Regions from separate parts of the Homo sapiens genome. Here region 2 is linked to region 1. The links come from fine-mapping of genetic effects on gene expression. A gene starts in region 1. The other region holds a variant in brackets. All regions are shown on one strand. Distances are from middle to middle.

Region 1 (5,529 bases):
AAGGCACTCCCACAAACAGAAGCTATATATTAAAAAGTCTTTATTAATAAGAAGCACAACCCATAGTAATCTAATAGCTCACTTACAGAAACACCAAAGAAACCACACCCATGATGGCAGGTGGAAACCAGGCTCTTTCCCATCGGAGGACTTTATCAGCCATCAGCATCACTTCTCCCCATCCTTGCAGCTGTTCTTCCAGACTTGCAGTCTCTGCAGCCTAAATACCACCGACATTTAAAGTGATCATTTTACCACTCTCAACATTTTTGTGGTTCATAGACTTCAATTATTTTAAAGCTCCAAATACAAAAAATAACCTCTTAACCAAATTGCCAATTTTAAACTAGTTGGTTTCTGAAAAACTGCAATTTCAAAGATGAAAATACAATGGGTTTTTTTGTTTTTTGTGTTTTTTTTTTTGAGACGGAGTCTCGCTCTGTCACCCAGGCTGGAGTGCAGTGGGGAGATCTCGGCTCACTGCAGCCTCCGCCTCCTGGGTTCAAGCGATTCTCCTACCTCATACTCCTGAGTAGTTGGGACTATAGGCGCCCGCCACCACGCCCGACTAATTTTTTGTAGAGACAGGGTTTCACCATGTTGGCCAGGCTGGTCTCAAACTCTGGACCTCAAGTGATCCACTCACCTCGTCTTCCCAAAGTGCTGGGATTACAGGTGTGAGCCACCAGGCCCAGCCTAAATATCCTTTAATGGTCACTTTTCTAGTCCAAGCACTGGGCTATTCTTTATATACATGATGTAACTTAATCCTTACAGAGAGCCACAAGGTAGGGATAATTAGACTCAATTTACAATTAAAGAAAGTGAGCTCAAAATGGTTTACTTTCTCAAAGTCATGCGGGGAATCGTGGCAGTGCCCAGAGTATTAATAAAATGAAATAACTTTTTTTAAGTTTGTTTATTTCAGATGGTTAGAATTGATCCGTTGTTTTTGTCATCTTATTGATTTAAACCCTTCTAAATCCATTAGGAAAGACTTTCCCTGAATAGCATTCAATTTCTAAAATAGCTCTTTGTGTAATGGAATCACTCAGATGTTGACATTCATTGGACAATTAAGGAAAACTACTTTCACCAAATTAAGGTGGCATTTTACGGTCAATATACCTCCTCAATACAGTGTTTCTTACCACTCAGGATGTCATTTTGATTATACTTCAAATTTCTCTGACTCTGAACAGCCGAAAGTGGGCCTCTAGGATGAGCTAATGTGGCAAAAGCCCTTAAAGCTGGTTTTGGTAAAGGAAGAAAAATTTAGAATAAGAAACTCAAGTGTCTCTATGTTATCAGGCTGGATGCAGTGGATCACGCCTGTAAACCCAGCACTTGGCGGGTCGGGGGGGATTGCTTGAGCCCAGGAGATCGGGACCAGCCTGGGCTGAGACCTTGTCTCTTTGTAAAAGTCATTCACTGGAAATCATGCAAATGACAGAACAAGGCACTTAATCTTAACAAAGACGCTCGCTATCTGTGCCACGCTGAGCACTAGTGTGATCTCAATATTTCTGACTTTATATTCCATGCTTAATACTAGTGAAAGAGACTACTATGTGTGGGCACTCTGCTGAGCATTCATATTTATACTTCAATTAATCTTCCTAACAACCCTTAAAAAAAGGTGTTATTACTGTCCCCATTTTACCAAGGAGGAAACAGATACAGAGGTTAACTGATCTGCATCCAAGAAATCCACGACCAAAGGCGTTGCTTTCCTTAGAGTTATATTGCTCTGCTGGAAGGAGAGTTGGGAAGCAGGAGCTCTAGCCCAGGATTTGTCATTTCAACAGGGCTTGAGCTACTTCTCTGTGCTTCAATTAATCCTCTTAAAAAGATCCACGCTGAGAACTAACTATGCTAGAAGGAGCGTGTGTTTAAAGGAACAAACCATGCATTTCTAAAAGCAAATATAAAATCACGCACAATCAAAACTGCCCTGAAGTCACGTCATTGGCCAGCGTCTGGGGTCTTGGAAGTTCAAAAGCCCCTAAGTAAATTCTTTGGTTCCGTTTTTCATTGCTGGTATGTGACCTACAGTCACCAGGGAAGGGCAACTGAGAATATGCAAGGATATTTCTCTTGTTTTTTGCCCACAAGGTGCGCTTAAATTCATAACAAATAAAAATGTGTCCGCCTATGATACCATCTCACTGCAGTTCCTTCGGATCCCTGCTTATTACTCTAAAGCTGTTTCCAGTAGTCCTGTGACCCCACCCCCGCCAGACTTCCAAATTCCAGACAAACGCCAAGACATCCCATTGTCTGTTCAGCTGGACCCCGCTCCCGGTTCCCCACGGTGAGCTCGCAGCCTCCCTGTCGTTTTAAGTTGTACCAGCTCTAAGATAAATTCTGGGCAGTAGCCCTTTGACCCTCCACCCTTGTCCAAGTTTTAGGGGGAAAAGAAGGCAGGCACATCCAGGTTAAGATCAAAGACGGGGAAAGCCGAATACGGCTGGGGCCTGAGCCGCGAAAGCGCTGGACAGGCCCCAGGAGGCCTTCTGCCCCCACCCGCACCCCAGGCTAGTGTCGCAGCCCCTCTGCCTCCCACTTCCTCCTCGACTCCTACTCGCGGTGATGAATCACGCGCCCTCCTCGCCCCGTCGCGCACCGTCCCCAGGAAAGGTAAGGGTTCGACACCCAGGAGTCACCCAAGAAGCCCGAGGGCCAGGCATCGTCGCCTGCCCAGGGAGAGAAGGGCCGGGCCCGCGGCGGGTGACAGGGACGAGGCCGCGGTGTTTGAGCCCACGGACGTCTGGAGGCCTCGCTCGGCTCCCGGGGGACAGGCAGCCAGGACTCACCAGCAGGTTGGTGCTGCGATTATCTCCCTCCGCCATCGTCTCGGGGATGCAGTCTCTACAAGCGCAGGCCACCTCCCCAACGAGTCCTCCAACCGAAACCCGCACACCAACCACAACCCGAGGGAACGCCCCGCAGGCTGCTTATATGGGTCGGCCGCCCTTCCCGACGGCCCCCGCGACGCTCGCTCCTCATTGGACAGACCGAGCTTACGCCTCAAGGAAGCCGGGCCAACCGAAGCTCAGCGCATGGCTTGAAATCGAGGTCAAAGGAGACAGAGGCAGCGCCGGGCCGAGGGGGAGGGGACACGGAGTGCCCAATCAGCGCCCAGGGACTGCGCGACGCCCCGCCCAGCGCTGTGGGAAGCGGTTCAACCGCCTCTGCAGGGGGCGCTGTCCCTCAGTGGTTCTCCGGCTCTTGCCGCTGCGGTGGCTTTGGGTCCCTCTTCGTCTGGCTTTCGCAGCCGAGGAGACTCTCTGGAAAATGGGCTACTCGAAGAGAGATGCTCCGTTGCCTCAGGCGGAGGGCGGGGACGCCGGGCCTGCGACACTTCATCTTTTCCTGGCCCCGAGGTGGCTGGGATCCGTTCCACCTTCGGCCCAGTTCCCCAGCCAGGCCCCTGAGCCGTTTAGCCCGGATTTGCGACCCGTGAGGTTTTGAGGACAAGTGAAAAGAGCTCTTTGTGTGGATTTTGCTGCAATGTTTCTCTCCTACCCAGTAGGAATGAGGCCTTAGCTTGCGCGGAAAAACCCAGGCCTGGTTTGAGAACGTGTGAAAATGCACCGCCTTCTAAGTGGCTTTATTATACGTGGATGTTTAAGTTACTTAAACTACAAGCTCCCTCTCCAAAAGGATTCTTTTTTTTTTTTTCTTTTTTTTTGAGACGGAGTCTCGCTATGTTGCCCAGCCTGGAGTGCAGTGGCGCGATCTTGCTCACTGCAAGCTCTGCCTCCCGGGTTCACGCCATTGTCCTGCCTCAGCCTTCCAAGTAGCTGGGACTACAGGCGTCCGCCAACACGCCTGGCTAATTTTTTGTATTTTTAGTAGAGACGTAGTTTCACCGTGTTAGGATGGTCTCGATCTCCTGACCTCGTGATCCGCCCGCCTCGGCCTCCCAAAGTGCTAGGATTACAGGCGTGAGCCACCGCGCCCGGCCAGAATTGTTTGTTTGTTTGTTTGAGACGAAGGAGTCTCGCGCTCCGTGGCCCCGGCTGAAGTGCAGTGGCGCGATCTCTGCTCACTGTAACCTCCATCTCCCGGGTTCAAGTGATCCTGGCGCGTCAGCCTCCCGAGTAGCTGGAATTACAGACGCCCGTCACTACGCCCGGCTAATTTTTGTATTTTAATAGAGACGGGGTTTCGCTATTTTGGCCAGGGTGGTCTGGACCTCCTGACCTCAAGATATCCGCCCGCCTTAGCCTGCCAAAGTGCTGGGATTACAGGCGTGAGCTACCGCGCCCGGCCAAAAGGATAGTTCTTGACACGACCTTTCTTCCATTAGAGGTCAAGCTAAGAAAATATGTAAACCCTCTCACAAGCAGTAGAATTCCTAGGCAGTTTAGGAACTGTGTTGAGGCACTTGTACATCTTTTCTATCCAGGATTTCAAATGCAGTAACAAGTGCTTTGATCTTTTTTTTTTTTTTTTTTTTTTTTTTTTCTTTTTTTCTTGAGACACAGCCTGGCTCTGTTGCCCAGGCTGTAGTGCAGTAGCCACCGCGCCCGGCCGATTTTTCATCGTTTGATACAAACAGAATCATGCCAAATGTCCGGATCAGATGTTTGTTTCAGGTGAATTAACTATAGTTTTAACTTCCAACCTTTTATCTTTTTTACAGGTTTTAACTTCCAATCTCATGGTCATTTGTATTCGGCCATTGAATTTAAATTTATTTTTAAAATGTTCCTTAAGTAACCACCAGGTTCTTAAATGTTCAAGGAAGTCATAAATGTGAGAGAACATAGCTGCAGACCACATACTGCCCCTAAGAGAGCTGGGCAAGGGCAGGAGCATTGTGAATTTCATGGAAGGGTGTCAATTTGCTGTGGGTCTTTCGGGGAAAGGGGAGTGAAGTATCTGAATCAGGGAGAAGCACTTGAAAAAAAGTCTTTGCAAGGGAAGCTGACTGTTCAATAAAGTGCCACTTTGGAGAATGTTGGGGTAAAGAAGTTGTAAAGGCAGGATACAGCCAGTTGACAGAGACGCTATTTGGAGAGATTTTAAAGCTATGGAGTCTGAGGAGCAGGTTCTTCTCCACGCCCCTAAAAAAAAAAAAATACAAATGGGGAGGCAGGGAAGATCCCTTGAGCCCAGGAAATAGAGGCTGCAGTGAGCTATGATTGCACCTATGCACTTAAGCTTGGGTGACAGAGCAAAAAACCTGTCTCAAAAAAAAAAAAAAAAAAAAAAGTCAAAAAGATCGAAGCAATCAGCAGCCACATAATTAGTGAATATGTTGAGCACTGGGTATGTGATCTTGCTAGACCCACAGTAATAGCCACTTCCAAAAGAGAGGGTATTTTATTAGGGTTTAAAACTGACATTTCTACTTTTGGGAAATCAGCTTTTGCTGCAGAATATGCTTCTTGTTTTCACCCAAGTTTTCCATGCACAACTTAAGACTTGTTAACACCAGCTTGTGAAATGAAGGTAGGTGAAAAAAACAGAAGCAACTGAAACAGCAGTTTCTCCACTTAGTATTTTTTGTTACTTAAC
Region 2 (5,000 bases), 98 kb after region 1:
TTCTAAATTCTCCCCCATGGAGAGGGTTAATCAGTCAAAAAATTTCAGCCTTTCCTGTCATAAAAATAAAAAACACTGGCAGCATGTCAGGGACGGGCAATGTCTTACCAAGTTATTTTCTAAGTACTGATTAGGTACTGTAGTATTGAAGACCCCATTGCAGATGCCTTAATTGTAAAGAGTAGCAATCAGAATTTTAAAAATTAAAAAAGAAGACATTTTAAGAAAATAAAAGGTATCAGAAATGCAATAAAGTGATATCAGAAAGTTGTAGTTCATAATCTATTTAAAATTCAGGTACTGTTTAGAATAATACCTGATGCTTATTAGTAAACAAGTAGGGTACAGCCAAGGGTAAAAGTGTGTCCTCATCTAAGTATCTGCTCTACGCTTCAACTACCTCATAAGTAAAACAGAGCTGAGTTACAAGACTTCTCATGAGTGTTACTCTTTCAGCCATCAATCATAAACTATCAAGAAAGAAGACAACAAAATAATCTATTATAGCATACGAAAAATCCAAGTAAGTTCTTCCCCTACTGATTTTCTCCTGAGAGGAACAACTTTGAGAAAAAAAAAAAAAAGAAAATCACTTCTATGATATTTACTAAAAATGCTTTCTCAACCTTTTAGAACCTGAATCTTTTAGAAAAGTTTAGGACACTGGCAAGGCCAGACACTAAGCTATTCCTCTATGCTTTGCCCCTCCCTCTATGGTGTAAAAGTGACAGCAGTGTTTGTATACTGTATATATTTCGTTTAGAGTTTATTAGTCTTTCCTTGCTTCCAAAAATACTAAACATAAAACTTAGCATGAGCTCAATCAGTTGGACACCTTGATCTGCACTTACTGCAATCACTGTTAATACAGAATGCAGACAACAGGTCCAATTAAACTTGGATATCTAACTGGTACAAGTCATTACTTATAAAGGATCTCAATCTGAAACTTCATGAAATTCAAAACCTAGCATACTAAAATGACTAAGGCTCCATAAGGAGTATCTTCTAATATTCAGAGTTCATTTATTCATAAAGCTAAGTACTTAGAACATAAGGGAAAATAAAATCTATGGAATTTCAAGAAAAATGTATGAGAATATTTTCTGAGTATACTAAGTCTATAAGCATTAAAATATTAACTCAATGGACCATAACTTTTTTAAACTAATGAAAAGACATTCCTTATGTACCTAAAAATAGCACATTTAACATGCATCTATATAAATCATAGCATACGATTACTTTCTGAAAGGAGATTGAAACATAAGAGAGCTTATAATCTTTTCTGACAGAGTTTGAACTTTATATGTATGCCACAGTAAGCTCTTATTAGATGAGCGAATAAAATAAGCACTTGACTAATTCGGAAACACAAAGATAAATGGAGTCTGCCAATATTTAAACATATCTTCACTTCCTGTTTTCATCATGTTTACTTATCTCCTATACTACCTTTACTATTAAGAGTTAAATATTTGTATCACTTTCTGGTGACACAGTAGTACCATAAGGCAGCAGAGAATACAAGTTAAAAAAAGATCTGGGCTCAAATCCCAGCTCCAGCACTGAAAAGTATGTGTGCCTTTGCACAAATTACTTGATCTCCAAGCCTTGGTTGTCTCTTGCATAAAATGAGGATGATACCTACCTAACATGCAAGGTTGTTGTGAGGCTTAAATAAGATAATGAATTATAAAGAAACGCTTAGTTTGCAGGGTATGTTAAAAGTTATTATGACCATAATACAAAATAAACTCAGTTTCCAGTCTAAAAGACAATGTACAAACAGTTCATGAGTATATGAATATAATCAAGACAAGTTTTTACAGTCAATATAGAGCAACTTAAATACTTCACTGAAGAAACCGGGTAATCTGTTGCTACCAACAATGTGTTTCCAACTACGAAGCATCTGATTTCAAACTAAACTGTAAAACCAGGAGCCGCTTCCCCGTTGGTTAGAAATAAGGTTTCTAAATCCCCTAAGTTATGAACACTGAGATTTTTTTCCCAAAAAAAATTTGTGTTTTCAGAAATATAACAAAAAAAAACTAACTGGAATAGAGCCACTGTCTCAGAAATACCTAAAAACTCCCTAGTTGCCAAATTATTTTAATACAAATTGATCAAAGCATCCCCAACCAGAACTCAGGTTGTAAGCATTCTGAACCTAAAAGCACAAAATGCTTTAGCATTTATATGAAATTTCTATTTTTATACAATCTTGACTACTTAGGTTTCAAAAAATGTCAATGTCAGGCTGTTAGCACCAACAAGATCATCCCAGTCCAATAAATAGAAAACTGTTAAAGAACGGAAATGAGCACTTAAAATGAGGCAATCAAAGCCACAAAATAGAAACTGCAGATTTGAACTCCAAGAAGCAGGCATGAATGTTAGGCTAGTTAGTTAGAAGAGCTGAAAGGGATATCATCTGCCAGAATTAGTGTCTCAATTTAGTGAAAAAAGAAAATCTATCTGTTAAGTCTAAGAATCCTAGCAATGATCCAAAAATACCTCTACAGCCCCTTTAATATTCTAAAAATATCATGGAGAGAAAAAAAAAGAAATGCATAAATTTCCCCA[C/A]AACGATCAAACTGAAGTTAAAGCCTGATGTACATGCCACATGAGAGGTAAGTTTCTAAAGCTCATACCTCAAAAATCGCATACTGTATAATATGGAGCCTTTGTGATGTTTTGCATCAAGTCAATCTGTAAGACAGTAGTTACAATATTAGTGAAGACAGTGGGTTAAAACATTTGTTGTTCAAACATGGAGCAAATATCATTCATGAGTTAGGTGCCTTTAGTTGAACTATGGTCCCATTAGGGTTCATACATTAAAGCAAAAATTGAGGTGGAAAGCCACTCTGTGCCTTACAGGATAAAGAGGCTTAATGTGGCAACCAAAAAAATTTTAGTACATAAGAGAATTTAAATGTTAACTGTAACATACAAATCACATGCAAATATAGTTACCACTTATTTTAGCTACCTATTCTCAATATACAGAAAAATGCCACAAATCTAGGAGGCCATTCGTTTCAAATGACCAGAATCCTTAGACCTCACACCAACAATCCACCATGTGCTGGGGATGGTATCGCCTGACTAAATGTAGCCTTGCAGTCCATTCTTGTAAGTATTAGAGAGAAAAAGAGAGAGAGTGTCATCTCTGGAAAGTGTGAAGTCAGGGAATTCCCTACTAGGAAGTATTTCCATAAAGCACCCCAAAATGACTTGATGCAAACACCATACCTAGTGGTGTCACTGGAGTAAGCATCATATTACTTCAAATTGCTTTTACCTAGGTTTATTAAGGGATTTTGCTCTCATGGTGAGATCTAATTTATAATGGATATAAACCAGGAAATGAGATTTGCACTAAAGCCAATGAAGTAGGAATGTACTTATTCTCTAAAGTAGCAAAGATAGTCTCACTGTCACAGAGCAGTTATAGGATATGTTGCTTTCCATACTAATGGTTAATACCACTTGAAAATGATTTACCCTTCAAAAATAAATTCAAGGTTTTCCCCTGTAATGCCTCTTACCTGGATTCAAACATGCTTTAATGAGGAATAAGAGAAAGGGTGAAACTATGAATAACCCTGGGCCTTGTATCATTACATTAAAAACACTGCTCTAAATATGAGTCTATGGCTAAAATATTAATTTGAGAGGCTCAGGGAATTTATTATACAAATCTCTTCTTGCAGAGAACTTTAAGTTCAAATTTAATAGAACCATTCCATGTCAAAATTATAAATGAGTATGCATCAGTTTTGCAATACTGAAATATTAAATTAATATAATTTATCGGTAAAACTAGTTTAACTACCTCAGTATTAAGTGTCTATAATAACCAAATCTTAATTATCCATTTATGGGTGATTTGTTTCCTTTTTTGAGACAGGGTCTCACTCTGTCACCCAGGCTGGAGTGCACTGGCATGACCATAGCTCACTGCAGCCTCGACCTCATGGGTTCAGCCTCTCAAACAGCTGGGACCACAGGTGCATGCCACCCCATTTAGCTAATTTTTTATTTTTATGTTTTTTGTAGAGACAGGTGTCTGATTATGTTGCTCAGGCTGCTCTCAATTTCCTGGACTCAAGCAATCCTCCCACCTCAGCCTCCCAAAATGCTAGGATTAGAAGCATGAGTGACCACATCTGGACTGTCACCAATTTTTAACTGTCTGTCAACTAAACAGCCAATATAGACTGATAAGATATACTTAACTATTGTAAAATTGTAAAGAATTGTATCTTCACCAAGGAGAGGTCTGGCTTTTACCTGTGAATTCTGGAAGGTAATCTCTAAACTCTTGAAATGTCATACCTAATAAGAGGGTCCTGGCCAGAAGCAGTGGCTCACACCTGTAATCCCAGCACTTTGGGAGGCCAAGGCAGGTGGATCGCTTGAGGTCAGGATTTTGAGACCAGCCTGGCCAGCATGGTGAAACCTGTCTCTACTAAAAATACAAAAATTAGCCAGGCATGGTGACGGGCACCTGTAATAATCCCAGCTACTCAGGAGGCTGAGGTTTCAGTGAGCTGAGATCATGCCACTGCACTCCAGCCTGGGCAACAGAGCAAGACTATCTCCAAAAAAAAAAAGGGGGGGGTGGCGGTGGGGGGAAGGTGTCCTTGTTCATCTGGGGGTTTTAGGCCACAGCAGAGTCTAATAATGTGACTTATGGTGGGGGCTTTGAGTCACATGGATCAGCTTGACCTCCAGTGGGGCTGGAGACTAAGGTTAGCCACATGGGCATGCAACCATGGAACCCCAGTAAAAACTTTGGACATAAAAAACAGAGTGAGCTTCCCTGGTAGGCAATAATTCATGAGTATTGTCGCACACCAGTGCCACCAGGAAGGTATCATTTTTCACAACTCTACAGGGACAGGACAATTTGAAACTCCAACATTTGGAACTTCCCCGAACTCTGCCCTATGCACCTCTACCCTTGGCTCATTCTAATCTGAATCCCT

What was found.
Region 2: its variant is fine-mapped to the expression of ARL6IP1 in whole blood (INTERVAL, PIP above 0.99).

What each region holds. Positions count from the first base shown.
Region 1 is chr16:18,798,615-18,804,143 of GRCh38, forward strand. ARL6IP1 (ARL6 interacting reticulophagy regulator 1) reads right to left here and starts at 2,935. Exons shown (of 6, transcript NM_015161.3): 1 at 2,817-2,935; 2 at 87-220. The coding sequence starts at 2,852. RefSeq lists enhancers at 2,439-2,558, 2,779-2,858, 3,239-3,478.
Region 2 is chr16:18,897,330-18,902,329 of GRCh38, forward strand. The region is part of intron 1 of SMG1 (SMG1 nonsense mediated mRNA decay associated PI3K related kinase); the gene reads right to left. Among named protein-coding and RNA genes, the nearest start is that of SMG1-DT, 26 kb to the right of the region's middle. The variant C/A (reference allele first, on the strand shown) is at 2,590.